7 separate regions of the Homo sapiens genome follow, and regions 1, 2, 3, 5, 6 and 7 are each linked to region 4. Evidence: fine-mapped expression QTL. A gene starts in region 4. Each other region holds a variant in brackets. All regions are shown on one strand. Distances are from middle to middle. Region 1 has its middle 2.3 kb from the start of POM121C. Region 2 overlaps HIP1 (huntingtin interacting protein 1). Region 3 overlaps HIP1 (huntingtin interacting protein 1). Region 4 holds the start of HIP1 (huntingtin interacting protein 1). Region 5 overlaps HIP1 (huntingtin interacting protein 1). Region 6 overlaps HIP1 (huntingtin interacting protein 1). Region 7 overlaps HIP1 (huntingtin interacting protein 1).

Region 1 (4,065 bases), 250 kb before region 4:
CTTTTAGGGTCAAATCCAGGGCTCCGTTACTGGGTCCTGGAGCCCAAGTCCTCTGGGTTAGAACGGAGTTTCCCATAAGGAGAAGGAAAGGAAAGGGTGTATCATGGTCACTGCTCTGAAATGCTGAGAAGTTTCACTCAAATACTGGGACAGGATAAATGCCCAGCGATGCTTTCCAAGGAACAAAAAGAAAATAGAATTTGTAGCTGGGCGCAGTGGCTCAAGCCTGTAATCCCAGCACTTTGGGAGGCCGAGGCGGGCAGATCGCGAGGTCAAGAGATAGAGATCATCCTGGCCAACATGATGAAACCCTGTCTCTACTAAAAATACAAAAATTAGCTGGGCGTGGTGGCGCGTGCCTGTAATCCCAGCTACTCGGGAGGCTAAGGCAGGAGAATCACTTGAACCTGGGAGGTGGAGGTTGCAGTGAGCCGAGATCACGCCACTGCACTCCATCCTGGCGACAAAGCGAGACTCCATAGCTTTTCTAGATCACACAGCGAATGCCTAAAAACCGTAGAGAAATAAGGACATACACACACAAACTGAACGAGGAAGAGATACCTGTGATCCTACCTTCCCCAGGAGGATTATGTTTAGGGTTAGGTTATGTTGACCAAAAAGAGTCAAAGTCTATAAAGAGTTTTATTCTGGGCCTCCTATTTGAGTGACCATGGCTGGTGACACAGCCTCAGGGGGTCCTGAGAACGTGAGCCCAAAGTAGTTGGGTTACAGCTTGGTTTTATGCATCTTAGGGAGACAGTAGTTACAGGCAAAGACATAAATCAATACATGGGAAGTATATGTTGGGTCAGCCAGGAAAGGCTTTCAGGTCACTAGTAGATTGAAAGACTGGCAGTTGGTTCAGAGTTAAGTGTTGGCTGAACAGCTGGAAGACTACATAAAGAAATGGGCCATTGCGGTGGCTCATGCCTGTATTCCCAGCATTTTGGGAGGGTGAGCTGGGAGGATCCCTTGAGGCCAGGAGTTCAAGGACAGCCTGGGCAACACAGCGAGACCCCCACTTCTACAAAAAAAAAAATAATTATCCAGGTGTGGTGGTGCATGCCTGTAGACTCAGCTACTCAGGAGGCTGAGATGGGAGGATCGCTTGAGCCTGGGAAGTTGAGGCTACAGTGAGCCATGATGGCACCACTGCATTCCAGCTTGGGCAACAGAGAAGAAAAGAAAGAGAGAGAGAGAAAAAGAGAGAGAGGAAGGAAGGAAAAAGAGGGAGGGAAAAAAAAGAAGGAAAAGTTTGAGTTAAGATAAGGGGGATTGTGGAAACCAAGGTTCTTGTTATGTAGGTGAAGCCTCAGAACAGGCTTCAGAGAGAATAGATGATAAATATCTCTTATTGGATCTTAAAAGGTGTCAGACTCTCCAGAAAAGACCTGGAGTCTTTTCTGTAAGGCAAAGAGATTCTCTACAGAATGCAAATTTCCCCCAAAGAGATGGCTTTGCAGGACTATTTTAAAGTTTGTCAAAGAAAATATGTTATGGGGTAAAATACTGTGATTTACTTCAGGGACTGCTATCTGTCATGTGATGCTATATCAGAGTCTGGTTGGAGATGGGTATCTTACTGATAAAAAGAGCCTGTTTTGTCAGTCCTATGATGTCTATTCTAATAGAGATCATAATGTTGGTCAGCTGTGCCTAAACTCTGACGGGAGGAGAATTATGACAAGGCATATCCAACCCCCTCCTTCCCATCATGACCTAAATTAGTTTTCCATGTTTATTTTGGATCCTGTTGGCCAACAGGGGAGTCCACTGAGTCAGTTGTGGGGGCTTAGAATTTTATTTTTGGTTTACAATTAAAATGTCAATTTTCAAAAATGGGATCATAAAGACAATGATTCATCACAATTTTTTGGTGAAATCTAACAGTGTTCTTGCCCAGTTGTTTCATAAAAACTGGTAAGGAAAAGACTAAAAATAAATTCTTCTGAAGCCAGGTGCAGTGGCTCACGCCTGTAATCCCAGCACTTTGGGAGGCCGAGGCCGGCGGATCATGAGGTCAGGAAATCAAGACCATCCTGGCCAACATGGTGAAACCCCGTCTCTACTAAAACACAAAAAATTAGCCGGGTGCGGTGGTGCGTGCCTGTAGTCCCAGATACTTGGGAGGCTGAGGCAGGGGAATCACTTGAACCTGGGAGGCAGAGATTGCAGTGAGCCGAGATCAGGCCACTGCACTCCAGCCTGGGAGACAGAGCAAGACTCCATCTCAAGATAAATAAGTAAATAAATAGATTATTCTGTTAACCTAGAATATTCTCTCCACAAATTCAGAAAATAAAGAAAACAATTTTATTATTGAATAAGCATTAAACCAGACTGTGATGCCCATCACAGGTGATCCATTAATGAGATGCAAAGAGAAATAAACC[CTCCT/C]TTTTTTTTTTTTTTTTTTTTTTTGAGACAAAATCTTGTTCTGTCGCCCAGGCTGGAGTGCAGTGGTGCGATCTCGACTCACTGCAACCTCTGCCTCCCCAGTTTAAGGGATTCTCCTGCCTCAGCCTCCCAAGTAACTGAGACTACAGGCGCGAGCCACCACACCTGGCTAATTTTTTGTATTTTTAGTAGAGATGGGGTTTCGTTATGTTAGCTAGGATGGTCTCGAAATCCTGACCTCGTAATTCGCCCGCCTAGGCCTCCCAAAGTGCTGGGATTATAGGCGTGAGCTATGGCGCCCGGCCAAAGCGTCCTTTTTATATAGCCTGGCAGATACAATCCATTGCATACACGCTCTCAAGATAAATAGTAACTCATCCTCATGCAAAAGGACTTGCTATGCAGTTTTTTTTGTTTTGTTTTTTTTGAGACAGGGTCTCATTCTGTCATCCAGGCTGGAGTGTAGTGGTGTGATCTTCTTGGCTCACTGTAACCTCCACCTCCTGGGTTCAAGTGATTCTCGTGCCTAAGCCTCCCAAGTAGCTGGAATTACAGACATGTGCCATCATGCCCAGCTAATATTTGTATTTTAGTAGAGACAGAGTTTCGCCATACTGGCCAGGCTGGACTCAAACTCCTTCTTTCGATTTCTGTGTGGCTTCAAGTGATCCGCCCGTCTCGGCCTCCCCCAGAGTGCTGGGATTACAGGTGTGAGCCACCGCGCCTGGCCTGCTATACATTCTTAAACACTCATCCTAAATTCACCTGGAAATCAACGTGGCCATCCATGCTAGTTAATTACCTGTATTCAATGAAAAAATAAAACTTCTCACATCTCCTTGACAAGCAGGTAGTAACAGCTCAAGTTGCCTAGGCTAAACTCCCTAGGCAACAGGAAGATAGGGACACTATTTTCCTCCAGGTTTACATTTCAAAGACAAGACTCTTAGGCTCTTAAGAAAAAAATTCCTGGATTGTGACCAGGCACGGTGGCTCACGCCCATAATCCCACACATTGGGAGGCCGTGGCTGGTGGATCACCTGAGGTCAGGAGTTCAAGACCAGCCAGACCAACAAGGTGAAACCCTGTCTCTACTAAAAATACAAAAATTAGCCAGGCGTGGTGGCAGACGCCTGTAGTCTCAGCTACTCAGGAGGTTGAGATGGGAGAATTGCTTGAACCCGGGAAGTGGAGGTTGCAGTGAGCCGAGATTATACCCCTGCACTCCAGCCTGGGTGACAGCGAGATTCTGTCTCCAAAAAAAAAAAAAAAAAAAAATTCCTGGGTTGTAATGTCGGCAAGAAGTTCATTTACCTTTTTAAAAGATTTAGGTACATATCAAAGGCACAAAAGAAGTTATTTATATTACAAGGTTTATCAAGGAAATACTCTTTAAAAAGGAGAGGAGATAAGGTTAATTTCCCTTTTGGCAAGTAAGACAAATGTAATCTTTTTTTTTTTTTTTTTAGAAAATCCATACAGTGAGGGCTGGGCACGGTGGCCCACATCTGTAGTCCCAGCACTTTGGGAGGCCAAGGCAGGTGGATTTGAGGCCAGGAGTTCGAGACCAGCCTGGGCAACATGGCGAAACCCCATCTCTACCACAAATACGAAAATTAGCTGGGTGTGGTGGTGTGTGCCTATTGTCCCAGCTACTCTGGAGG
Region 2 (4,061 bases), 130 kb before region 4:
GGATGGAGGAGAAGCCAGGAGGCAGGTGAGGCTGCGTGTGGGAGGCCAGTGGGCTTCTGAGTGGCAAGAAGAGATGACAGCAGGTGGAGGGGAATGGGCCAGCAGTGGCGGCAGCTGGGGTAGAGCTGGATGGAGCCTGGAGGTGAGAATTCAGGGAGGAAGCTATTTTTGTTGTTGTTGTTGTTTTGAGACGGAGTCTTGCCCTGTCGCCCAGGCTGAAGTGCAATGGCGCAATCTTGGCTCACTGCAACCTCCACCTCCTGGGTTCGAGTGATTCTCCTGTCTCAGCCTCCGAAGTAGCTGGGATTATAATAGTTGCACATTACCACGCCTGGCTAATTTTTGTATTTTTAGTAGAGACAGGGTTTTGCCATGTTGGCCAGGCTGTTCTCAAACTCCTGTCCTGAGGTGATCCCCCTGCCTTGGCCTCCCAGTGTTGGGATTAGAGGCGTGAGCTACCGCGCCTGGCTGTATTTTTATTTAATCAATTATTATTATTTTTTGGAGACAGGGTCTTGCTCTGTCACCCAGGCTGGAGTGCAGTGGTGCAATCATAGCTTACTATAGCCTCAACCTCCTGGGTTCAGGCAATCCTCCCACCTCAGCTTCCTGAGTAGCTGGGACCACAGGCACATACCACTATGCCTGGCTAGTTGGTTTTTTTAAATAGAGACGGGGTCTCATTATGTTGCCCAGGCTGGTCTTGAACTCCTGGCCTCAAGCAATCCTATTGCTTCAACCTCCTAAAGTGCTGGGCTTATAGGTGTGAGACACCATGCCCAGCCAGAAGCTATTTAATAGCATAAAAGTACAGGAAAAATGGAATCAAAATGAAAGATGTGAGAATGGAAATGACCCAATATAATGTGAGCTGTAAAACGAGCTTCAGTAGGACTGGCAGATAGGAGCTCCGGGTTACAGGGAGACAGCAGAAGGATGCATCCATGGTGCCTCCAAGATGATGCAGAGACTTTAGGAGGCCGAGGGGGGCAGATCACCTGAGACCAGGAGTTCAAGACCAGCCTAGCCAACATGGTGAAACCCCATCTCTACTAAAATACAAAAATTAGCTGAGTGTGGTGGCTCATGCCTATAATCCCAGCTACTTGGGAGGCTGAGGCAGAATTGCTTGAACACGGGAGGTGCAGGTTGCAGTGAGCCGAGATCCCGCCATTGTACTCCTGCCTGGGCGACAGAGTGAGACTCCGTCTCAAAAAAAAAAAAGATGATGCAGAGGCTCTGGACCTAGATGAGGGGAGGATAGCAGCAAGGGCCACAAGCTGGGGAGACACTGTAAGAAAAGGACCCGAAGGAACAATGAACAATGAGGCCAGGCGGCTCTTGGGTAAGAAATAGCCATTTTTAAAAGAATGAGGAAGTGAACTAGCGGTAACGGTGGTGATAATTATCAAGCTGATGGCACTAATGAGTGCTTAGACCAGGCCCCTTTGTATGAATTATCTTATATAAAGTCTTACAACTCTACAACCTACCAGTAGACACTTAATAGTATTAATCAGCTCCATTCTGCAGATGAAGAAACCAAGGTACCTGAGATCTCTTAGGCTTAGAAAGGCTAAGTAAACCTGGGTGGGGTGGCTCATGTCTGTAATCCCAGCACTTTGGGAGGTTGAGGCTGGAGGATTGCTTGAGAACAGGAGTTTGAGACCAGCCTGGGCAATAGAGCGAGACCCCATCTCTAAAAAAAAATTTTTTTTTAAATAGCCAGGTGTGGTGGTGCACACCTGTAATCCCAGTACTTTGGGAGGCTTAGGTGGGAGGATTACTTGAGGCCAGGAGTTTCAGAACAGCCTGAGCAACACAGTAAGGCACCATCTCTACAAAAAAAAAAGAGTTGTTTTTTGTTTTGTTTTTTTTTTTTTTGAGACAGAGTCTTGCTCTGTTGCCCAGGCTGGAGTGCAGTGGTGTGATCTCAGCTCACTGCAACCTCTGCCTTCTGGGTTCAAGCGATTCTCCTGTCTCAGCTTCCCAGTAGCTGGGATTGCAGGTGCACACCACCAAGCCCGGCTAATTTTTGTATTTTTAGTAGAGATGGGATTTCACCATGTTGGTCAGGCTGGTCTTGAATTCCTGACCTCAGGTGATCCGCCCATCTTGGCCTCTCAAAGTGCTGGGATTACAGACATGAGCCACCATGCCCAGCC[TA/T]AAAAAAAAAAAAAAAAAAAAAATTTGTCAAGTGCGGTGGCCGTGCCTGTAGTCCCAGGTACTTGGGAGGCTGAGATAGGAGGATCACAGGAGGATCACTTGAGCCCAGGAGTTTGAAGCTGCTGTGAGCCATGATCACGCCACTGCACTCCAGCCTGGGGACCAGAGTGACACCCTATCTCTAAAATAAATAAATAAAAATAAAAAAAGAACTGCTAAGTAAACTGCCCAGGCCCGTAACATCAGCAAGTGTAGGGCGGGGATTCAGTCTTTGCAGTGTGACCAAGCTCAGGCTCAGGATCACAACCTCGGCACTAGACAAGGCCCTCTACACCACAGAGACACGATCAGAATCCACAGACTGGAAAAATGCATTAAAATTCACAAGATGAAATCCAGTAGGTACAAAGGAAATTTTCTATACTTAGGCCTAAACTCACTGGCACAAGGGAGCCGTGACTCAAAGCAGCACTTGTGAAAAGAATGAAGGTGTTTTGGCTGGGCACATGGCTCACGCCTGTAATCCTAGCACTTTGGGAGGCTGAGGTAGGTGGATCACGAGGTCAGGAGTTCAAGTTCGGCCTGGCCAAGATGGTGAAACCTCGTCTCTACTAAAAACACACAAAAAATTAGCCGGGCGTGGTGGTGGGCACCTGTAATCCCAGCTGCTCGGAAGGCTGAGGCAGAAAATTGCTTAAACCCGGGAGGCGGAGAACGCTGTGAGCCGAGATCACGCCACTGCACTCCAGCCTGGGTGACAGAGAGAAACTCCGTCTCAAAAGAAAACAAAAAAAAGAATTAAGGTGTTTTATTTGGCTGCTAACTTAATAATAGCAAGATTTTGATACGGTTGATGAACATGCAAGTCTGATCTCTCTGGATGCATTAAAAGGAGGGAACGTATGGTTCCAGTTCTCTACACAGATAAGGCCATGCGTGAAACACTATTCAGTTTCAGGCTTTATACATTATGAAGGAAACTAACAAGCTGGACCATTTCCAAAAAAGAGTGACCTGGATTGAAATGGACTTAAGATCTGAAGAAAATTTAGAGAAATATCAGTATTCTGAAGCGTGACCATCTGGAAGCAGGAAAAACTCCAGAGGCTTGAACCTAGACCAATGGGCAGAAGTCCAGAGAGGCAGTTTCTGGATGAACTTAAAGCTGTCTCATGAAAGAGAACTCCTCATTATTAGAAACACACATGCAGAAGAGAGGCAACCTCTCTGGGTTATTGTGAAAAAGATGGACAGGTTCAGATTACATTAGATGACTTCTAGGTCTCTTCCCATTTTTAGACTCTGAAACGGCTGATCAGATGACGGAGGGCTCTGGATATCAGGTCGAGGAAAACTGTGATCTGATGGGTACTGGGGATCCACAGAAGGCTCTTGAGCAGGGGAGGAACATGACACAAATGACCCTCTGTTCTCCTGAATGAGTTACTTCTCCAGTGTGCTAAGGAAAGTGGGGAACACCGTGGGAGTCACCGCCTCCCAGTATGAATCCAGTGCAACTGACAAGGACCTGGCCTAAGCACTGGCTTGTGGAAAGAAGTTTCTTCCTAAACCAGCGGCTACAAGGCACCTGTAAGCTCTGCCTGAGCTTGCCAGGACTGTCCCAGACCCTTCTCCTGCAGCTCTGGGGGGGCTCACAAGAGCTCTCAGGCACTGTCATCATCGTGCCCCAGTTCCCCAAGCAACACTTCATCATAGTGGCTGTACCCATGAGGCAGAGCCCACTCTATGGTTTGGGGCCCATTGCCGAGTCTGTGGCAAGGCTTCTTGGGGGCTCATTCTGGGTTCTAAGGCAACCTGTAGGTCCCCCAGGGGGCCAGGGAATGTCAGATACTGAGGGGTTTCCAGGGCAGAAGTTCCCTGCGAGGACCAGTTTC
Region 3 (4,065 bases), 160 kb before region 4:
CAGTAGGAAGGGGCAGTGTGTGGTCTTTCTGCTCAGACGTGAAACCACCCGCTTGGAAAATATCTAGGAGGCCAGGTGTGGTAGCTCACGCCTGTAATCCCAGAACTTTGGGAGGCTGAGTTGGGAAGACACCTTGAGGCTGGTAGTTCAAGAACAGCCTGGGCAACACAGTGAGACCCCTATCTCTGCAAAAAATATAAAAAATCAGCCAGATGTGGTGGTGCGTGCCTGTAGTCCCAGCTACTTGGGAGGCTGAGGTGGGAGGATCATTTGAGCCTAGTAGTTTGAGGTTGCAGTGAGCCGTAACATGCCACTGCAATCCAGCCTGGGCGACAGAGTGAGACCTTCTCTCTCTCTCTCTCTTTTTTCTTTTGAGATGAAGTCTTGCTGTATCACTCAGGCTGGAGTGCAATGGCATGATCTTGGCTCACTGCAACCTCGACCTCCTGGGTTCAAGCAATTCTCCTGCCTCAGCCTCCCAAGTAACTGGGATTACAGGCATGTGCCACCATGCCCGGCTAATTTTTATATTTTTAGTAGAGACAGGGTTTCACCATGTTGGCCAGGCTGGTCTTGAACTTCTGGCCTCAAGTGATGGGCCCACCTTAGCCTCCCAAAGTGCTAGGATTACAGGTGCGAGCCACTGCACCCGGCCGAGACCTTGTCTCTTAAAAAGAAAAATACTGAAGAGGTTCAGTCCCTCCCTGCACGAGGGTTGGAGAGACCAGAGATGGGGTGTGAATGTCTCCATTTTCCTACCCCTTGTGCTGCACACTTTGCAGGGAGAGGAGGACTAGGAATTAGGTAGTTCCCATGAGAGCCTGGGTTAGACGGGAGGGAAGAGACTCACCTGTTTGGAAGAGGTTGAGTTCACACTCCAGGTAGTCAAACATCTCCACTGTTAACTGGAAACTGGACCCAAGAGGAAAGAGAGCTTACACTCCACAGCCTGAGGCCGGTCTGTTACCTGTCCCCTCCCCCACGCTCTACGCTACTCCAGTCTCCAATGCTCATGTGCATGCGCAAACACACACACAACTCCAGCTCCAAGTCTTAGCCTTGTGGGTATTATGGCCATGCAGCCTGGTGAAGTCAACAGTGACAGCGACAGGTCGGGGGCGGTGGCTCACGCCTGTAATCCCAGCACTTTGGGAGGCCGAGGTGGGCGGATCACCTGAGGTCAGGAGTTCAAGACCAGCCTGGCCAACGCGGCGAAACCCCATCTCTACTAAAAATATAAAAATTAGCTGGGTGTGATGGCGCATGCCTGTAATCCCAGCTACTCGGGAGGCTGAGGCAGGAGAATCACTTGAACCTGGGAGGTGGAGGCTGCAGTAAGCCGAGATCAAGTCACTGCACTCCAGCCTGGGTAACAGGGCAAGACTGCCTCTCAAAAAACAAAAACAAAAACAGTGACAGTGACAGAGGGAGAGGATAGGTACCAGTGTTGGAGTCAGAGGGCAGAAAGCGAGACAGACAGGAAAGCTTTGGGGTGTGAAATAGCCAGGCAGGGGTTCTGGATGAGGCACCACCAATAAATAAGTAGCCCCAAGGCCAAGTCACCCAGGGGCTTTGGTCCCCATCCCAGCCACGGCCTCCCCCCATCAGGCCCTCCATGACCCTTATGAGAAGTGTCAGCATTCACAAAAGCTTTCTCCCTCCCTGGGCTCAGGGCAGGAGCCACTTACAAGTTGTTCACGTCACTTTCTCCAGCCTCGTCCAGCTGGCGGTCACTCATCTGCAGGTTGCCTGGGAACCTGGGATTCTGGAAGGGAGGCAGAGGAAGGGAGTCAGGGCAGAAGACATGAAGAGCCCTCTCTCAGCCGGGCGTGGTGGCACAC[G/A]CCTGTGGTCCCAGCTACTTGGGAGGCCGAGGTGGGAGGATTGCTTGAGCCCGGGAGTTCAAGTTTACAGTTCAAGGCCACTGCACTCCAGCTTGGTTACAGAGTGAGACCCTACCTCAAAACAAACAAAAAAGAAAAAAAGAAAAATCGCTGGTATCATCAATCATTGCTGAGTATCTACAGCCAGCATGATCCTGTCATCTGTGTGGTTTGTCCCTGTGGCAAAGGGAAAAGGCCACAGAGATGGGTGGCCATTCCATCGTGGGGCATCTACATGTACAAGTGGATACTTTAGGCTCTAGGCCAGGTGCGGTGGCTCACACCTGTAATCCCAGCACTTTGGGGGCCAAGGCAGATGGATCACTTGGGGTCAGGAATTAGAGACGAGGCTGGCCAACATGGCAAAACCCTGTCTCAACTAAAAATACAAAAATTAGCCGGGTGTGGTGGTGCACGCCTGTAGTCCCAGCTCCTTGGGAGGTTGAGGCAGAATTGCTTGACGCTGGGAGGCGGAGGTTGCAGTGAGCTGAGATCGCACCACTGCACTCCAGCCTGGGCAAGAGTGAGACTCCGTCTCCCCCACCGCAAAAAAAAGAAAAAAAAATCCCCATTGCAGACTTTGCTCCTGGGCTCCATGGTGCCAAGGCCTCTGAGGCTTGACCTGGCACCTGGGACACAGTTTTCCTTTGCCCCAAGTCATACACGCTGAGATTACAACCTCTGACCTCAATTTCAGCACCTTCACCTCTACTCCATCCCCACTCCAGACTCTGCCATCACCTAAAACATCCCTGCCCAGACCTCCCCACACCAGCATCTCCCTCTCTGGCTGCATCGCCCAGGCCTCTGCCCTTTCAGTCCTCTCCTGCCCTCAAGTCCACCCACTACTCACGCTTCTGTCTCAGAGATGGCCAGTCCCCTCCTGCTCCCTCTCCTCCCCATCTCTCTGCCTGCCTTTGCTTCCTGGCTCAGTCTTGACATCATGACTGGTGGCCTGGCTCCACTTCCCCACACCCTGCCTGCCTTTCTACCACACTGCTTGGAAGACCTGCTGAGAGCCTGGGTCCTTGTCATCGGCTCTGCACCTAGGGCCGGCTGCCGACTGTCCCTGGAGAAAGACTCACAGCTGGTGTCACTATGCATTCACGCTCTCTGTCCTGAACGTCCGTCTCAGTCAGCTCGGGCAGTTATAACAAGATACCATGCACTGGGTGGCTTAACCCATAGAGAGTGTCTTTCAGTTCTCGAGGCCAGGGAGTTCAAAGTCAGGGTGTTGACAGATTCGGTGCCTGGTGAGGCGCTTCATCCTGATTACGTTGCTTACATGGCAGAGGAGGGGGAAACCAGCTCTCTCTTGTTTCTCTCTCTTTTTTTATTTTTTAGAGACATGGCCTCACTGTTGCCCACGCTGGAGTGCAGTGGCATGATCATCACTCACTGCAGCCTCGAATTCCTGGGCTCAAGTGATCCTCCACCTCAGCCTCCTCAGTAGCTGGTACTACAGGCATACACCACCATGCGGGCTAATTTGTGTGTGTGTGTGTGTGTGTGTGTGTGTGTGTGTGTGTGTGTGTGTGTTTAGTAGAGATGGGGTTTCGCCACATTGGCCAGGCTGGTCTTGAACTCCTGACCTCAGGTGATCCGCCCGCCTTGGCCTCCCGAAGTGCTGGGATTACAGGTGTGAGCCACCACGCCCAGCCAGAGAATGAATTTTTCTTTAATGTGTGCGGGATATTTTTGTTGTTGTTTTCGAGACGGAGTCTCACTCTGTTGCCCAGGCTGGAGTGCAATGGCATGATCTCAGCTCACTGCAACCTCAGCCCCTTGGGTTCAAGCGATTCTCCTGCCTCAGCCTCCTGAGTAGCTGGGATTAACAGGCACGCACCACCATGCCCGGCTAATTTTTTTGTATTTTTAGTGGAGATGGGGTTTCACCATGTTGCCCAGGCTGGTCTTGAACTCCTGACCTCAGGTGATCCACCCGCCTCGGCCTCCCAGAGTGCTGGGATTACAAGCGTGAGCCACCGCGCCTGGCCAAAAAAAATTTTTTTTAAGAGACAGGGTCTCACTGTGTTGCCCAGGCTGGTCTCACCTCAAGCCTTGGCCTCCCCAAATGCTGGGATTGCAGGTGTGAGCCACTCTGCCCAGCCTCCTTCCCCACTCTTGTATCGCTAATTGCTAAAAACTGGAAAAGTCCTTTGCTCCTCCACACTTGGACAATACC
Region 4 (4,065 bases):
AGGGTCCCACTGCTTCACACTATCCAGACACACCTGCGCGCGGTTTTCTTTCTTTTTTTCACTTTTTTGTAGAGATAGAGTCTCACTCTGTCACCCAGGCTGGAGTGCAGTGGCACGATCATAGCCCACTGCAGCCTCAGCCTCCTGGCTCAAGTGACCCTCATGCCTCAGCCTCTCAAACAGCTGGGACTATAGGTGTATGCCACCACACGAGGATAATTTTAAAATTTTTTCAAAATAGAGGCGGGATCTCAGTGTGTTGTCTAGGCAGGTATCGAACTCCTGGGATCAAGTGATCCTCCCACCTTGGCCTCCCAAAGTACGGGGATTACAGGTGTGAGCTAATGCACCCAGCCTAATTTTTTTATTTTTTGTAGAGACAGGGTCGCACTATGTTGCCCAGGTGGGGGGCCAAAGGTTTTCAGAATAAGAAGAGGGGATGAAGTCCTCTGGGGGTGAAAAGCTTTATTCTTTTTTATTATTATTATTTTGAGACGGAGTTTCGCTCTTGTTGCCCAGGCTGGAGTGCAGTGGCGCCATCTCGGCTCACTGCAACCTTCACCTCCCAGATTCAAGCAATTCTGCTGGCCTCAGCCTCCCAAGTAGCTGGGATTACAAGCGTCTGCAACCACGCCCAGCTAATTTTTTGTATTTTTAGTAGAGACAGGGTTTCACCATGTTGGCCAGGCTGGTCTCAAACTCCTGACGTCAGGTGATCCACCCGCCTCGGCCTCCCAAAGTGCTGGGATTACAGGTGTGAGGTACCGCGCCCGGCCAAAAGCTCTATTCTTTGAAAGATTCCATATACAGAACCTTCAGTCAGATTCTCACTGTCTTTTCTAACTAAAATCCCAAAGCCCTTTCCCTCCAACTGTGTTTGGGGGAAGTATTCCTCGCATAACACATCAGGGGACCAGCCTCTGGAGAGGGGGACCCAAATGGATCTTCAAAGGTTCCACTCTGAGCACAAGAGTGTAGAAGAAATCTGCCCCTCCAGCATTGGCACTGGGATTAAAAGAAGCGTTGTACTCTTTGAAATGGATTTTACATACAAATGAATTGATGAACACCATCAACATGTCAGCTTAATTCAGCCCAATCAATACACCAGGCATTAAAAACTCGGAGAAAAAAATGGATTGTGGCTTTTTGTTGATGACACTGAGGAATTTTGGCCCCAAGCCCTGGCCAGGCAGGACAAATAGGGCAGTCTGCCTATTAGCTGTCAGGCACATCTTGGGGGATAAAACCAAGACCCCAAGTCAGGGCTCAGGGGCACCATGGTCTCCACTTTAGCCCCCAAAGTAATTTTCCCACAAAGTGGCCACACTTTGCATTTCCTACATTCCTTTTCCCTGCTCCGACCCCTTCCGCCCGGCCTCAGAGCTGACAGCTGGGGCTGGCCAGAGCCAAGCAAGAGGCATCGAGAAAGGGGGATGCTAAGGGGTGGGGGGTGGGAAGGGATGTCAATGCAACCAAGAAGTGATCGGAGGGGAAGAGAGGTCCCCTCACCCTTCACATTCCCAGCCCGGCGCCCCCACTCTCCGCCCCCACACTTGAGCCTCCAAGTGGCTCCCGTGCGCTTCCCTTGTTTAGGGGCAACCCTTCCATTCCGCCCCTTTTCAGTTCCTTCCCCTCTCACCTCATCTTGGGACTCCTGCCCGGTACCCAGCCGATCAGGCTCCTCTTGGCCACGCATCCTGCCATCTCCTCCGAGCCCGCCTCTGCCCTTCTCCCCAGGCCAGCTGGGGTACCCTGGGGTCCCCGACCTTCCTGGGATCGCCCAGATCTGCACGTCAATGCCCCCGCTCACTACACCCTCGCCCCGTCTTCAACTGGGGCCTGCAAGACTCCTACTCCCTTCAAAGCCCCTCCCGGACACCGCGTCCCTCAGGGTGCCCCAGGGATGCCCCGGGGTCCCCCGTCCTCACCTGAGTCCGCTCGAAGCTCTCGCGCTCCGCCGCCTCCAGCCCAGCGCCGACCCCGCGCCGGCTCAGCACCTTGGGCAGTGGGTTGGGCACCTGCTTCATGGAGCTGGCCATCCGATCCATGTCGCCGCGAGGAGCCGAGTCAGGGGCCCTCGGCTGCCCCGGGATCCCCACGGCGCCGCCCGCCCCGCCCTACCCGCGGGGATCCGGCGCTAACGGGACGGCTCCCGCCTGCCATTGGCTGTGAGTTCTGCCAGTCTTCCAGAGACCCCGCCCCTCGCCGAACGGCTTCCCCGCCCGCCCCCGCCCCTTCAGGAGCCCCTCCGCTGGCTCGGCCCCGACTAGCCTCTCGGGGCCTCGAGGCGCGTGGTGACTGGTCTGGAGTCCTGTCAGTCACCGTGGTCCCGCCGTTCTAGGCAGGGCCGGGGCGGGGTGCGGACGGGGCGAGGCCTGGATGGGGCGTGGCCTGGGCGGGCTGCCCTGATATGCCCTCGCTCGCCCCGCCCCCGCCCGCGCACCGCCCTCTCCTCCCCTCGGCCGCAGTCCCCGCGCGCCCCGAGCGTGCTGCCCTCCGCCAAGCGCCGCCCACTACCCTGCCCGCTCCTGCAGGGGGCTATCCCGCGACGGCCCGTGGAGATGGGCGGGGATGACGCGGGCCGGGCAGTGGGGCCTCCCCCGGGGGAATCCCAGCCCGCCTGCGAATAGCCCGTTAGCTCCTTCCGGGCCTGGGACCCGGGAGCGCCGGACTGACCAGCCCTGCGGCCGCAGCCCGGGAAAGCGCAGCCCCGCGGGCGGGGCGCAGCGTGGGCGCCTGGCCGGATCCGGCTCAATGGGTGGCCGCCCCCACCCAGCTCCCAGGCTTCCCCGTCCTGCACTTCTCCATTCTGCCCCTGCCCATGCCCTCTGCAAGGATCGCAGAGCCCAGGTCCCGGAGTTCGGGGCTGAGTCCGCGGGCACCTCCCGGGACCTGCCTCCCAAACCTCATCAAAGGAACCCGTCAGAGCTTATTTGTTGGTAGAAAGCCCTGTAGACACTTTCGGTTTATCTTAGGCTCTGAGCCGCGCGTCCCATCCTGCTCAGACGTCAGCCAGGGTACCAGCAAGCAGAGAGAAGTGTGATGCTTAGCAGGAGTGCTGGAGAAAGTTAAAAGTTTTCCGTTAAACTCCAATTTAGGTGTGTTTTTGTTTTTGTTTTTGTTTGTTTTTTTTTTTTTTTTTGGTTTCATTTGGAGTCAGTCTCCCTCTGTCGCCCAGGCTGGAGTGCAGATCGTAACACACTGGGACCTTGAGCTCCTGGGTCCTAGCGATTTTCCTGCCTCGGCCTCTCGAGTAGCTGGGACTACAGATGCACGCCACCAAGCCTGGCTATCTTTTTTGCAGAGATGGAGTCTTTCTATGTTGCCCAGACTGGTCTCGAACTCGTGGCCTCAAGCAAGCCTCCCACCTTGGCCTCCCAAAGTACTGTGATTACAGACATGAGCTACAGCACCCGGCATAGATGTATTTTTTAAAAGTTATTTGAAACTCGGAGTAATGAATGGCACCTTTAGGCCTAACAATTTGGTGATTCGTGTGTGTGTGTGTGTGTGTGTGTGTGTTGTAAATTTGGCCAGGTGCGGTGGCTTACACCTGTAATCTCAGCGCTTTGGGAGGCTGAGGCAGGCGGATCGTTTGAGCTCTGAACTTTGAAACCAGCCTGGGCAACATAGCAAGACTCCATCTGTACAAAAAATTTTAAAATTAGCTGGGCGTGGTGGTGCAAGCCTGTAGTCCCAGCTACTCACAAGGCGGGAGGATTACTTGAGCCAGGGAGGCAGAGGTTGCAGTGAGCAGAGATCGCGCCACTGCACTCCAGCCTGGGAGACAGAGCGAGACCCCGTCTCAAAAAAATATATACATATTTCTTTGTAGTGAGGGGTATGTTGCTGGATTGCCCAGGCTGGTCATGATCTCCTGGGCTCAAATGATCCTACCACCTCAGCCTCCCAAAGCACTGGGATTACAGGTGTGAGCCACCCTGCCCTGCCTGTTTTTTTTTTGTTTTTGTTTTTATTTTTTTTAATAAGAGCGTTTGGTAAAAATTCACACATTCAATAGAGAAGTGAAAGAGGGGTGGGCATTTGCGGTTACTAAGGAGC
Region 5 (4,065 bases), 110 kb before region 4:
TTGGCAGAATCAATCATTCCTACTTAGTTTCTATAGGAGTTTCCTTAAATCTCTATAGAATAAAGAACCCAGTAACCTGCCCAGGTAAGTGGTAGAGACAGATTTTGAACCCCAGGACCCAAGGCCTTGACCACTCTGAAATACTGTTCCTAGATCAAAGTGAGGGGCCCTTTGAGATTTGACTTCTCTGAGCCTCAGTTTCTCCAGCTTGAACATGAAAATAGGAATCACACTTTTCTGAGAATTGCATGAGACACGGTGCTCTGTCACCTCCAGCCTTGTTCCAGTTGATGTTACTTGGGTAGGGCTGAGAGGGCCTTGTTTATTGTGGGTAGCATCAAGTCCACACCCAGGGCCATGGCCAGAGAACTGCCCATTTGACCTTGCCTCCCTTACTGGAGATTTGTTGGATATAAGAGGCAGCATCTTCCCTCCAACTACTAGAAAATCTGGCAGAAGTGGATGAGTGTTCAGTGCTCTGTAGACCCTCTGGCTGACGGCTGGATCCACAGTTGAGTAGACCTCAGGATGATGGTCAAGGGGAGCTGGGCACAGGGAAAGGGCCCTGAGGTTTAGACTCAGACAACTCTCAGCAATGAGCCATGAGCTAAATCTGGAGTCCAGGATTTCAGCCAGACTGTAAGCCAAGTACACACCATGAACAGGGGTTCCAGAGTTCCCTGGCAGCCAAGGAAAATCCCCTGCTAGGAATGAATGTGCTCACTCCTCTTTCACAATTCTTATCCAAGCATATTTAGAACAGTGCAGCCATTTCTGCATCTAACCCCATTTCCTGGATCATTTACCACCTTCCAACAGCCTACAAAATTTTCTCATTTACATTTATTGCTATTATCTATGACTCATCCCCTCAGTCCCTGCAGGAGCTCAGCTCCACAAGGCAGGAATCTTTGTTTGGTTCAGTGAAGTATCCCAAGTGCTTGGAACAGCACCTGGCATATGGAAGACACTCTATAAATCTTTTCTGAATAAATGAATAAATGAAATGTCACCTTCCCCACCCCACTTCCTGTACCATTTGGCAGAATTAGTCATCTTGCCTCTGAATGTCTATAGAACTTTCCTTAAATCTCTCATATTGTACCAATCACACTATTGTGATTATTAACATTAATCTAATATTATAATTTTATCTCCTGTACCTCTTTTTTTTTTTTTTTTTTTTTGAGACAGAGTCTTGCTCTGTCACCCAGGCCAGACTGTAGTGGCACAATCTCGGCTCACTCCAACCTCTGCCTCCCGGGTTCAAGTGATTCTCGTGCCTCAGCCTTCCAAGTAGCTGGGATTACAGGCACGTGCTGCCGCACCCGGCTAATTTTTGTATTTTTAGTAGAGACGGGGTTTCACCATGTTGGCTGAGCTGGTTTCAAATTCCTGACCTCAAGTGATCCACCTGCCTTGGCCTCCCAAAGGGCCGGGATTGCAGGTATGAGCCACTGCATGCGGCCTGTACCTCTTTTAAGGAAGAAGCCATCAAAGGATCACTTTCTCTCTTACATTATCTACACCTGGCATGAGGTCTGGGTGGGTCCTCAGTGTCTGCTGACTCAGGGGACAATCTTCACATATACAGGGCAAAAAAGACAATAGCCAGGACCCTGGTTGTAACCATTAGAAACATCCCTACCCAGCACTGGGGCTGGTGACATGATCTTGAGCTAGGGGGAGTAGGGAGGCAGTGATTTTGTAAGACTTCTTCCTAGCCTGAGAAAAATCCAGCAAGAAAAAGTTATTTTAGGTCCCAGAATACGAGGCTGAACTGAGTCCTCCAAAGAGAGGTTAAGATAGAAAGTTAATGAAATGTTCATTTCAAAAAAACTTTGCCCAACCCACGGTTTGCAACTCCCACACTTATCCTGGTACCAGTGAGAGCCATCTCCAGGCCCGGGTAGCAGTAGGCAGCGTAAACCCGTTGGCCAGAATAGCATATCCACGTCTGATTGTCAAGTGGAGGCAGCCCCGCTTACTGGCTCTACTAGAGACTTGCTGGTTATTTTTAACACAGGCCCTCACACCTGTGCCCACTCCTCCTCTCCATTCCTCTGGCCCCGCTCCTAACAAACCTACTCAACATTCATTCCCCAGGGTTGTATGTTCAGCCTGTGTGCAGCACCTCTCTCTCAACTGGAATGTCTTCTTTTGTCTTTTAATCATTCATGCATTCAGCACCCATTGTGCATCCTGTATTTCCTTCAATTGCGGCTCCCCCGCTTTTCTTTTTTTTTTTTTTGAGATGGAGTCTTGCTCTGTCGCCCAGGCTGCAGTGCAGTGCTGCAATCTTGGCTCACTGCAACCTCCGCCTCCCAGGTTCAGGCGATTCTCGTGCCTCAGCCTCCTGA[A/G]TAGCTGGGATTACAGGCGTGAGCCACCACGCCCAGCTAATTTTGTATTTTTAGTAGAGACGGGTTTTCTCCATGTTGGTCAGGATGGTCTCAAACTCCCGACCTCAGGTGATCCTCCCGCCTCGGCCTCCCAAATTGCTGGAATTATAGGTGTGAGCCACTGCGCCCGGCCTGCTCCCCTTCTTAAAGCACAGCTCTTCCAGGTATCACTGAGGTGTAAAAAGATTCAGCTTTGGGAGGCCAAGTTGGGAGGCCGAGGCAGGAGTATTGCTTGAGGCCAGCAGTTCAAAACCAGCCAGGGAAACATAGCAAAATCCTGTCTCTGCAAAAAAGTTAAAAATTGCTGGGCATGGTGGCATGCACCTGTAGTCCCAGCTACTTGGGAGGCTGAGGTGGGAGGATCACCTGAGCCTGGGAGGTTGAGGCTGCAGTGAACTGGAACTGGAATTGCACCACTGCATTCCAGCCTCAGGGATAGAGTGAGACCTTCTCTCTGAAAAGGAAAAAAAGCCAGCACAGTGGCTCATGCCTATAATCTCAGCACTTTGGGAGACCAAGGCGGGCATATCTCTTGAGCTCAGGGATTCAAGACAAGCCTAGGCAACAAGGTGAAACTCCGTCTCTACAAAACATACAAAAATCAGCCAGGTATGGTGGTGTGCACCTGTAGTCCCAACTACTCGGGAGGCTGAGGTGGGAGAATCACTTGAGCCTGAGAGGTTTGAGGCTGCAGTGAGCTGTGACTACACCACTGCACTCCAGCATGGAGGATAGACCGAGATCCACCTCAAAAAAAAAAAAAAAAAAAGATTTGTGTTCTGTATCCTGGAAACTTTGTTAGCCCACAGAGATAGGGAGTGTGCCTACTTTTCAAGCATCGACCAGAGGTAGTTTCTGAACAAATCCTGTGGTTTCATGACCTTACCCTTTTAGCGTGCCTGAAATACCCTTATTTTCCTCCTTCCAGGGGATCTTCTTCCCCTCTGTCCCCAGTTTTCTTAATGATACCCTTCCTTAAGTTGCCGGCTGGTTAACCCCACCTTCTCCAGGCTGACACATGCCCCATCCTTTGTGCATTGCACCACATGTATTGCAACTACTAACAGGTCTGATTGCCCCGGCAGACTGAGCTCACCCAGCAGTGATCATTCTGCAAGAAGCAATGCTCCCCTCTTTCCCTGAAGTTTTCAGATTTTATTTGTAGCCTAAATGAAAGAGCAAACATATTTCTAATGATAGCCATGGTTTACTAAGCCCCTCCTATGTGCCAAGTACTGTATTTTGTATTTTATCTTATTTTTTTAGACAGGGTCCTGCTCTGTCACCCAGGCTGGAGTGCAGTGGTGCAATCACATCTCACTGCAGCCTTGAACTCTTGGGCTCAAGTGATCCACCTGCCTCAGCTGGGAGGATCCCTAGTAGCTGAGACCACAGGCTCATGCGACCAAACCCAGATAATTTGTTTTTTAAATTTTTTTTTTTTTAGTAGAGATAGGATCTTGCTATTTTTCCCAGGCTGGTCTTGAACTCCTGGGCTCAAGTGATCCTCCCGCCTTAGCCTCCCAAAGCACTGGGATTACAGGCATAAGCCACCATGCCTGGCTTGTGTCAAGTACTTTAAGTGAGCATCTTGACAGTGCTGCAAGTCTGCAGACACCAACCTGCCTTAGAAGCGAGGAAACAGTATGAGGAGATCAACTAACTT
Region 6 (4,065 bases), 120 kb before region 4:
AAACAAAAACAAAAACAAACAAAAAATGGCCAGGCGCGGTGGCTCATGCCTGTAGTCCCAGCACTTTGGGAGGCTGAGGCAGGCGGATCACCTGAGGTCAGGAATTTGAGACCAGCATGGTCAATATGATGAAACCTCGTCTCTACTAAAAATACAAAAATTAGCTGGGTGTGATGGTGCGCACCTGTAGTCCCAGCTACTCAGCAGGCTGAGGCAGGAGAATCGCTTGAACCTGGGATGTGGAGGTTGCAGTGAGCTGAGATCACACCACTGCACTCCAGCCTGGGCGACAGAGTAAGACTCTGTCTCAAAAAAAAAAAAAAAAAAAAAGAAAAGATAAGAAAAGAAAAGAAAACAAAAACAAAAACAAAGTATCTCGTAACATCGTCCTAGACAAGAATGAGAAAGGACAGGCTGCTAGGGGTCCAAACCACCGCCCACCAGCCAAACCTGGCCTCAGCCTGCTTGTGCATGGCCTGTGAGCTAGGACTGGTTTTTGTGTTCTTGTTTAGGGACAGAGTCTTGCTCTGTTGCCCAGGCTGCAGTGTAGTGGTACGATCATAGCTCACTACAGCCTTGAACTCCTGGGTTCATGCAATCGTCCCACCTCCACCTCCCAAGTAGGTGGGCCTACAGGTGCGCACCACCACGCCAGGCTAATTAAAAAATTTTTTTTTGTAGAGACCGGGTCTCACTTTGTTGCCCAGGCTGGTCTTGAGCTCCTGGCTTCTAGCGATCCTCCCACCTTAGCCTCCCAAAGTGCTGGAATTACCGGCGCTAGCCACCATGCCTGGCTTTTTAAGGGTGGGGAGGAGGAGGAGGAGGAGGAGGAGGAGGAAGAGGAGGAGGACGAGGAGGAGGAAGAAATAGTAGCAGCAGGAAGCCACAAAGCCAAAAACATTTACCATCTGGCCCTTTGCAGAAAATGTTTGCTGGCCCCTGGACTAGGCAGGGCAGCCTATGAGGGTGGATGTCCACACATACAGAGGCTGATTACTGGCCATCACTTTGGGGTAAGGCATGCTGGTGCCTGAGCCTGTGTCCTCCTCCTCATGTTTACCAGGGAGGTATATGTCAGGCACAGTGATTGATCTAACTGATGCTGGGAACAACAGTAACTACATTTAGATGACTATTTTTTTTTGTTTGGACAAGGTCTTGCTCTGTTGCCCAGGTTGGAGTGCAGTGGTGCAATCATGGCTCATTGCAGCCTCGACCTCCTGGGCTCAAGCAATCCTCCCACCTCAGCCTCCCAAAATAGTTGGGAGCACAGGTGCATGCCACCACACCCAGCTAATTTTTTTTTTTTTTTTTTTTGAGATGGAGTTTTGCTCTGTCACCTGGCTGGAGTGCAATGGCGTGATCTCAGCTCACTGCAACCTCCGCCTCCCCGGCTCAAGCGATTCCCTTGTCTCAGCCTGCCAAGTCGCTGCGATTACAGGCACCCACCATCACTCCCGGCTAATTTGTTTTGTAGTTTTTAGTAGAGACGGGGTTTCACCATGTTGACCAGGCTGGTCTTGAACTCCTGACCTCAGGTGATCCTCCTGCCTCGGCTTCCCAAAGTGCTGGGATTACAAGCGTGAGCCACCGCACCCAGCCACTAATTTTTTATTATTTGTAGAGGTGAGGATCTCCCTGTGTTGCCCAGGCTGGTCTCGAACTCCTGGCCTCAAGCCATCCTCCTGCAGCGGCCTCCCAAAGTGCTGGGATTACAGGCGTGACCCACCGCGCCCAGCCTCAGCCTGGTTCCTTGCGTGAGTCTTGGTTTCTTGGTCTCCTTTTCCCCGTATGCCAGCTGCCTCCCTCCATAAGAGAACATCTGTGATGACCTTCGGGGTGCCCACTTAGGCTTTCAAAGGGGCCTGGAATGTAGGGCACAGGGTAAGAGACTCGGACACCAGGCCTTGGGGAAAAGGAGAAGCGGGCCCATATGCCCTCCTCTCACCCACAGGGAGCTGTGGCTTCGAAAGGGGCTCCTCCCTTGTAAGGCTGCTGCTCCTGTCGTCATGGAGGAAACCTTGGTTCTGCTTCCCTAGCACCCCAAACTGCAAAGTCACGCTGGCAGGTATTGCACCCAGAGGGCTCATTCCCCATTCATCATAGTCACTGGTTGGGCAAGTCACCCTCCCTAGAAAGCGCAGCCTTGGGTAAATCCACCAGACATATCCTGATCTTTCACTATTCACAGAGCCAGACTGGAGTGGCCTTTCGTAATGGCCCTGGCCAGAGCT[C/T]CCGGGGGAAGCCTTCCGGATAGGCAGCTTGTCAGCAAGAGTGGGAAACCCTGGGCTGCGCCCTCCCCACAAACCACCAGCATTGCCCAACTTCCTCTCTTCATGCCCTCTACCACCCTCTCGTTGCCCCAGCTTTCTTTCTTTCATTTTTTTTCTTGAGACACAGTTTCACTGTCACCCAGGCTGGAGTGCAGTAGTGTGATCTCGGCTCACTGCTACCTACCTCCACCTCCTGGGTTCAAGCGATTCTCACACCTTAGCCTCCCGAGTGGCTGGGATTACAGGCACGTGCCACCAACTCTGGCTAATTTTATATTTTTAGTAGAAACAGGGTTTCACCATGTTGGTCAAGCTGGTCTCAAACTCCTGACCTCAAGTGTTTCATCTGCCTCAGCCTCCCAAAGTGCTGGGATTACAGGTGTGAGCTACCACACGTGGCTAATTTTTGTATTTTCAGTAGAGATGGGGGTTTCACCATGTTGGCCAGGCTGGTCTTGAACTCCTGACCCCAGGTGACCTGCCCTCCTCAGTCTCCCAAAGTGCCGGGATTACAGGCATGAGCCACCGCACCCAGCTGTTTCCCCAGCTTTCTAACAGTGAGGTTAGTTTTGTCTCTTCTCTTTTATTAATATACTGCTACTTATCTCCAATGATCTGAAGACTCAAGGTGGGTGATGCCTGACTTACAGGAGATCCCCCAGCACGGGAACCATCCCTTATCCAGCTCTGGGTCTCTTGCAGTGTCCAATTTCTAGAAGTGACCTTTCTGTCAAGTGAATGAGCCAAGCCCCAGCCACATCCCAGCACTAGAAAACCTGATGCCTCTCCCTTGAGCACATCCTTTTTTTTTTCTTCCAAGTTTTTTTGTAGAGATGGGGTTTCACTATGCTGCCCAGGCTGGTCTCAACCTCCTGGGCTCCAGTGAGCCTCCCACCTTGGCCTCCCACCCAACATCCTTGACATCCCACCTTTTGTTCTATTTCTGCAGGAATCGCTGTGTGTAGAAAGAAAGCCTTTGGTCAGTGGTTCCCAGACTTGGCTAGGCCGGGATATCATCTGAGAATCCTGTACCCCGAGTTTGTACACACACCCCTAGATTCCTTTGCTCCACCCCCAAATTGGACTCATTTGGGCTCGGAAGGGCCCATGGCACTGTTAATTCAGGTGATGTTACAGAAGAACATTGTATGTCAGAGTCTAAGAAAAAATTCAGCTAAAAGTAAAAACAGTGGCCGGGCACAGTGGCTCATGCCTGTAATCCCAGCACTTTGGGAAGCCCAGGTGGGCGGATCACTTGAGGTCAAGAGTTTGAGACCAGCCTGGCCAACATGGTGAAACCCCATCTCTACTAAAAATACAAAAATTAGCCAGGTGTGGTGGCGTGTGCCTGCTGTAATCCCAGCTACTCGGGAGTCTGAGGCAGGAGGATTGCTTAAACCCAGAAGGCAGAGGTTGCAGTGAGCCGAGATCACTCCAGCCTGGGCGACAGAGCAAGACTTTGTCTCAAAAAAAAAAAAAAAAGAGAAGAAAAACAGTAACAAAAAGGAAGAATGAGAGCAAAGAATAAAGATGGTGGAAATGTGAAGAATGAAGTCAGTTTCTCAGCTCAGACAAGTATACCTTGATGTAAGTAAATTTTTTTCTGGAAAATGTGAATTGCCACTAAGGCCAAATTAGGAGATTATTATTCATTTCACAGAAGACATTGGCATTCGATACCCTTAAATAGCAATCTCCGTTAGTACATTTAAGAGAGGATTCAGTTTACAGAAGTGTGATTTATACAAAACCACATCTGTTACATAAAGCTCAGAAAAATAGCTCTCCTCCC
Region 7 (4,065 bases), 120 kb before region 4:
CCACATAAGACTGGGGCCACTGGAAGTGGTTTTGTTTTTTGCGGTTTTTGGTAAAGACGGGGTCTTGCCATGTTGCCCAGGTTGGTCTTGAACTCCTGGCCCCAAGCGATCCTCCTGCCTTGGCCTCCTAAATTGCTGAGATTAACAGGTGAGCCAGTGTGCCTGGCCTCCCTGGAAGGTTTTGAGCAAAGCGGTAAAACGATCTGATTCAATAGGATCCCTCTGGCTGCTGTGCTGAGAACAGACTGCAGGGACCAGTGTGGCTGCAGGGACCACAGTGAAGACTCTGCTGCCTTCAATCAGGACAGAATTGATGGTGGAGGCAGAGGAGGTGTCGAGACGTGGTCGGTCTCTGAATTTATTTTGAAGCTAGAGCTGATGGGATTATCTGATGTTCTGGATCTGGGGTGTGAGGAAGGAAGGAGTCAAGGAGAACATCGTGATGATTTGCCTGAGCAACTAGAGGGACTGAGCTGCCATTAACAAGCTGGGGGGACCCATGGGAGAGTTGGTTTGGGGCTAGGTTAGACATGACACACCCACCAGGTATCCCAGTGGAGCTGTGGGTGAGCAGTGGGCTGTGCCGCATCTGGAGTTCAGAAAAGGTCTAAGCTAGGCCAGGTGTGGTGGCTCACACCTGTAATCCCAGCACTTTGGGAGGCCGAGGTGGGCAGACCTCTTGAGGCCAGTTCGAGACCAGCCTGGCCAACATGATGAAACCCTGTCTCTACTAAAAATACAAAAATTAGCCAGATGTGGTGGTGCACGCCACCCAGCTGACTCGGGAGGCTAAGGCAGAAGAATTGCTTGAACTCAGGAGGTGAAGGCTGCAGTGAGCTGAGATCATGCCACTGCACTCTAGCCTGGGTGATAGAGTGAGACTCTGTCTCAAAAAAAAAAAGAACAGGTCTGAGCTACATTTATAAATTTGGACGGAATGTAAGAGTGGATAAGAGCACCAAGGAGTGAGTGCAGATGAGATGTCTGGGGACAGCCTGAGGACACCCCGACGTTCAGGAGAGACAGGAGGCCAGGTACGGGCAGTGGCTCATGCCTGTAATCCCAGCACTTTGGGAGTCCAAGGAAGGAGGATTGCTTGAGCCCAGGAGTTCGAGACCAGCCTGGGCAACACAGTGAAACCCCGTCTCTACCAAAAATACAAACATTGCAAGTCTTAAAACCTGGTCTCTAAATAAATAAATAAGGATAGGAGGGAATCAGTGATGGAGATAGAAAAGAAACAGCCTGTGAGGTTGGGGGAAGCCAGGAGACTGTGGCACCCTGGAAGCCATATGAAGAAATGCATTTTGACCGGGCATGGTGGCTGGTGCCTGTAATCCCAATGCTTTGGGAGGCTGAGGCAAGAGGACACTTTGAGCCCAGGAGTTGGAGGCTGTAGTGAGCTATGACTGCGTTACTGCACTCCAGCCTGGGCAACAGAGCAAGATTGTCAAATAAATAATTATCTATCTATCTATCTATCTATCTATCTATCTATCTATCTATCTATATATTTTTTAAAGGAAATTGGCTGGGTGTGGTGGCTCACGCCTGTAATCCTAGCACTTTGGGAAGCTAAGGCGGGCAGATCACCTGAGGTCAGGAGTTTGAGACCAGCCTGACCAACATGGTGAAAGCCTGTCTCTAATAAAAATAAAAAATTTAGCCAGGCGTGGTGGTGCGTGCCTGTAATCCCAGCTACTCGGGAGGCTGAGGCAGGAGAATCGCTGGAACCTGGGAGACGGAAGTTGCAATGAGCTGAGATTGTGCCTCTGCACTCCAGCCTGGGCAACAGAGCGGGACTCCATCTCAAAAAAAAAAAGCAAAAAAAAAAAAAAAAAAAGGCTCTCCCCCTCTGATGGTAGGTCGAGGAGAGAAAGGGGAGGCTGGGAGCTGGAGGCAATGAGTGCTCTACAGGGTTTCTGCTGTGAAGAGGGACAGAGAGAGAGGGCAGCCGCTGGGAGGAGGTGGGCTCAAGGTTTTCTTGTTTCCAGTGGGAGACATAATAA[T/C]GCATTTGCATGCGCATGAGGAGAGGACGGGAGAGTGGCAGGGATGGGAATGGGGCCTGGTGCCCAGCAGGAGGGCAGGCTGGGCCAGATCCCACAGTACAGACACAGACGGAGGCAGACATGTGGGTGAGGGCAGTGCCAGTTTTCACAGATCGTCTCTCTTCACAGTGAAACAGGAAGCGAGGTCAGGGCTGAGAGCTCAGGATTTGAGGAATGCACAGGATGCCTGGAGCTGCACTCAAGGACCAGGCAAGTGGCACTTGGAGAAAGGAACTAAGCCAGCCTCCGCCTCCTCTTCTCCAGCCCAGTTCTCCCCAGAGCCTCTCCCTTGTCCTCAAACCAACTCTTCTCCTCCTCCTCATTGCCTTTCTGGCTTGTAAAGTGTTTGAGGCTGGGCACAGTGGCTCACGCTTGTAATCCCAGCACTTTGGGAGGCCGAGGCGGGAGGACTGCTTCAGCCTAGGAGTTTCAGACCAGCCTGGGGAGTAGTGAGACCCTATGTCTACAAAACATCAGAAAATTAGGGTGTGGTGGCTCATGCCTATAGTCATAGCTACATAGGAGGCTGAGGCAGGAGGATCGCTTGAGGGCAGGAGGATCACTCGAGCTCTGAAGGTCAACGCTGCAGTGAGCTATGATCGTGCCACTGCACTCCGGCCTGGGAGACAGAGCTGGACCTTGTAAAAGAAACACACGCACACCTCCAAAGCACAGACCTCGCTGATCTCAGGTCAGAACCAAAGAAAAGAGATGGAGTGAGCGGTGAGGCTGTGGTTACACTCTGGAGGCCACGGAATCAGGCAGGCAGAGGCGCTGATGGATACTCCCTGCTCTGGACCCAGGGAGTGAGAACAAGCTGGGGAGGATTTGCTAATCAGTTTTCTAAAGTGGAAAGAGAGGTTGTTGCTAATTCCGGAGGTGGATTTCATCATCGGCTGCACGGCTGTGACGTGACTTCCTCAGAAAGCAAAGCTGCCAGAAACTCTCCCTTCTACTTCTTCTGTCTTTGGGGTGAAGAAGAGCCCTTCCTTAGGGGAGTGGGGGGAAAAAGAGCTATGAGATTCAGAAGTATAGGGGTGTTGGCCGTGGGGGAGTCATCCAACAGGCCCCAGGCAGGGTAAGCCCCACCGAAGCCTCCAGGCCTGACAGCCTACTGGTCTCCTGGTGGCCACAACGTCACTGGAAGCCCCCTTTCTAAAGCACAGCTCCAATCATGTCAGAAACATCCAGGGCTTACGAGGAAACTGCTCCACTCCCTGGCCTGGCACTCAAGGCCTGGAGATCCGGCCCCCACTTGCCTTTCCAGTCTTAGAATTCATTCCTGTCCTTCCCTTTCCCAAATACGTCCTGTCTAATTTGACCCTCATGCCTTCTCTTCATGCCACCTCTCTAACCAAGATTAACTACCCTGCCAAAACCATCTCCATTTATTTAAGTTCCATCATTCATTCAGATAGTTATGATTTTATTCATTCATTGAATTCATCCATCAAATCTATATTCATCCCTCTGTGTCTGTACATAGGTGTATTTTTGTTTAATTTTTTTTTTTTTTTTTTGAGATGTCTTGCTCTGTCGCCCAGGCTGGAGTGCAGTGGTGTGATCTTGGCTCACTGCAGTGCCTCAGCCTGCCTCCTGAGTAGCTGGGAATTACTGGCACCTGCCACCACGGCCAGCTAATTTTTGTATTTTTACAATTAGTAGAGATGGGGTTTCATTATGTTGGCCAGGCTGGTCTCGAACTCCTGACCTCAGGTGATCCACCCACCTTGGCCTCCCAAAGTGCTGGGATTATAAATATAAGCCACCATTGTTTAAGTTTTTATAGAGATGGGGTCTCACTCTGTTGCTCAGGCTGGTCTCAAACTCCTGGGTAGGTGTATTGAGCACCCGGTCAAGTGTTGCATTAAGTCAACTCACAGATCACTAAGACTTAGTCCTGGTTTCAGAGTGAGGTCTAGATGGGGAGAAAGTGATGGCATTGTGTCCACCTTGTGAGAGGAGAGAGATTGGTGGGTATGGACTGTATGGAGGCCTGGGGTGTGGGCATCTATCT

Evidence for each region.
Region 1: its variant is fine-mapped to the expression of HIP1 in whole blood (INTERVAL, PIP above 0.99).
Region 2: its variant is fine-mapped to the expression of HIP1 in whole blood (INTERVAL, PIP above 0.99).
Region 3: its variant is fine-mapped to the expression of HIP1 in whole blood (INTERVAL, PIP above 0.99).
Region 5: its variant is fine-mapped to the expression of HIP1 in whole blood (INTERVAL, PIP 0.98).
Region 6: its variant is fine-mapped to the expression of HIP1 in whole blood (TOPMed, PIP above 0.99). The same link has a PIP of 0.9 or more in T cells, blood mononuclear cells, monocytes, neutrophils and tibial nerve.
Region 7: its variant is fine-mapped to the expression of HIP1 in whole blood (INTERVAL, PIP above 0.99).

Annotation. Positions count from the first base shown.
Region 1 is chr7:75,486,558-75,490,622 of GRCh38, forward strand. No RefSeq gene overlaps it. Among named protein-coding and RNA genes, the nearest start is that of POM121C, 2.3 kb to the left of the region's middle. The variant CTCCT/C (reference allele first, on the strand shown) is at 2,397.
Region 2 is chr7:75,605,364-75,609,424 of GRCh38, forward strand. All of the region lies in intron 1 of HIP1 (huntingtin interacting protein 1), which reads right to left. Among named protein-coding and RNA genes, the nearest start is that of SPDYE5, 120 kb to the left of the region's middle. RefSeq lists a silencer at 2,995-3,195. The variant TA/T (reference allele first, on the strand shown) is at 2,166.
Region 3 is chr7:75,580,387-75,584,451 of GRCh38, forward strand. HIP1 (huntingtin interacting protein 1) reads right to left here. Exons shown (of 31, transcript NM_005338.7): 6 at 1,689-1,765; 7 at 851-912. Among named protein-coding and RNA genes, the nearest start is that of SPDYE5, 90 kb to the left of the region's middle. The variant G/A (reference allele first, on the strand shown) is at 1,842.
Region 4 is chr7:75,736,870-75,740,934 of GRCh38, forward strand. HIP1 (huntingtin interacting protein 1) reads right to left here and starts at 2,072. Exons shown (of 31, transcript NM_005338.7): 1 at 1,932-2,072. The coding sequence starts at 2,051. RefSeq lists a silencer at 1,860-2,849.
Region 5 is chr7:75,627,310-75,631,374 of GRCh38, forward strand. The region is part of intron 1 of HIP1 (huntingtin interacting protein 1); the gene reads right to left. Among named protein-coding and RNA genes, the nearest start is that of HIP1, 110 kb to the right of the region's middle. RefSeq lists an enhancer at 3,835-4,065. The variant A/G (reference allele first, on the strand shown) is at 2,361.
Region 6 is chr7:75,615,777-75,619,841 of GRCh38, forward strand. The region is part of intron 1 of HIP1 (huntingtin interacting protein 1); the gene reads right to left. Among named protein-coding and RNA genes, the nearest start is that of HIP1, 120 kb to the right of the region's middle. RefSeq lists an enhancer at 1,545-2,046. The variant C/T (reference allele first, on the strand shown) is at 2,235.
Region 7 is chr7:75,621,387-75,625,451 of GRCh38, forward strand. The region is part of intron 1 of HIP1 (huntingtin interacting protein 1); the gene reads right to left. Among named protein-coding and RNA genes, the nearest start is that of HIP1, 120 kb to the right of the region's middle. RefSeq lists enhancers at 1,801-2,754, 2,755-3,708. The variant T/C (reference allele first, on the strand shown) is at 2,010.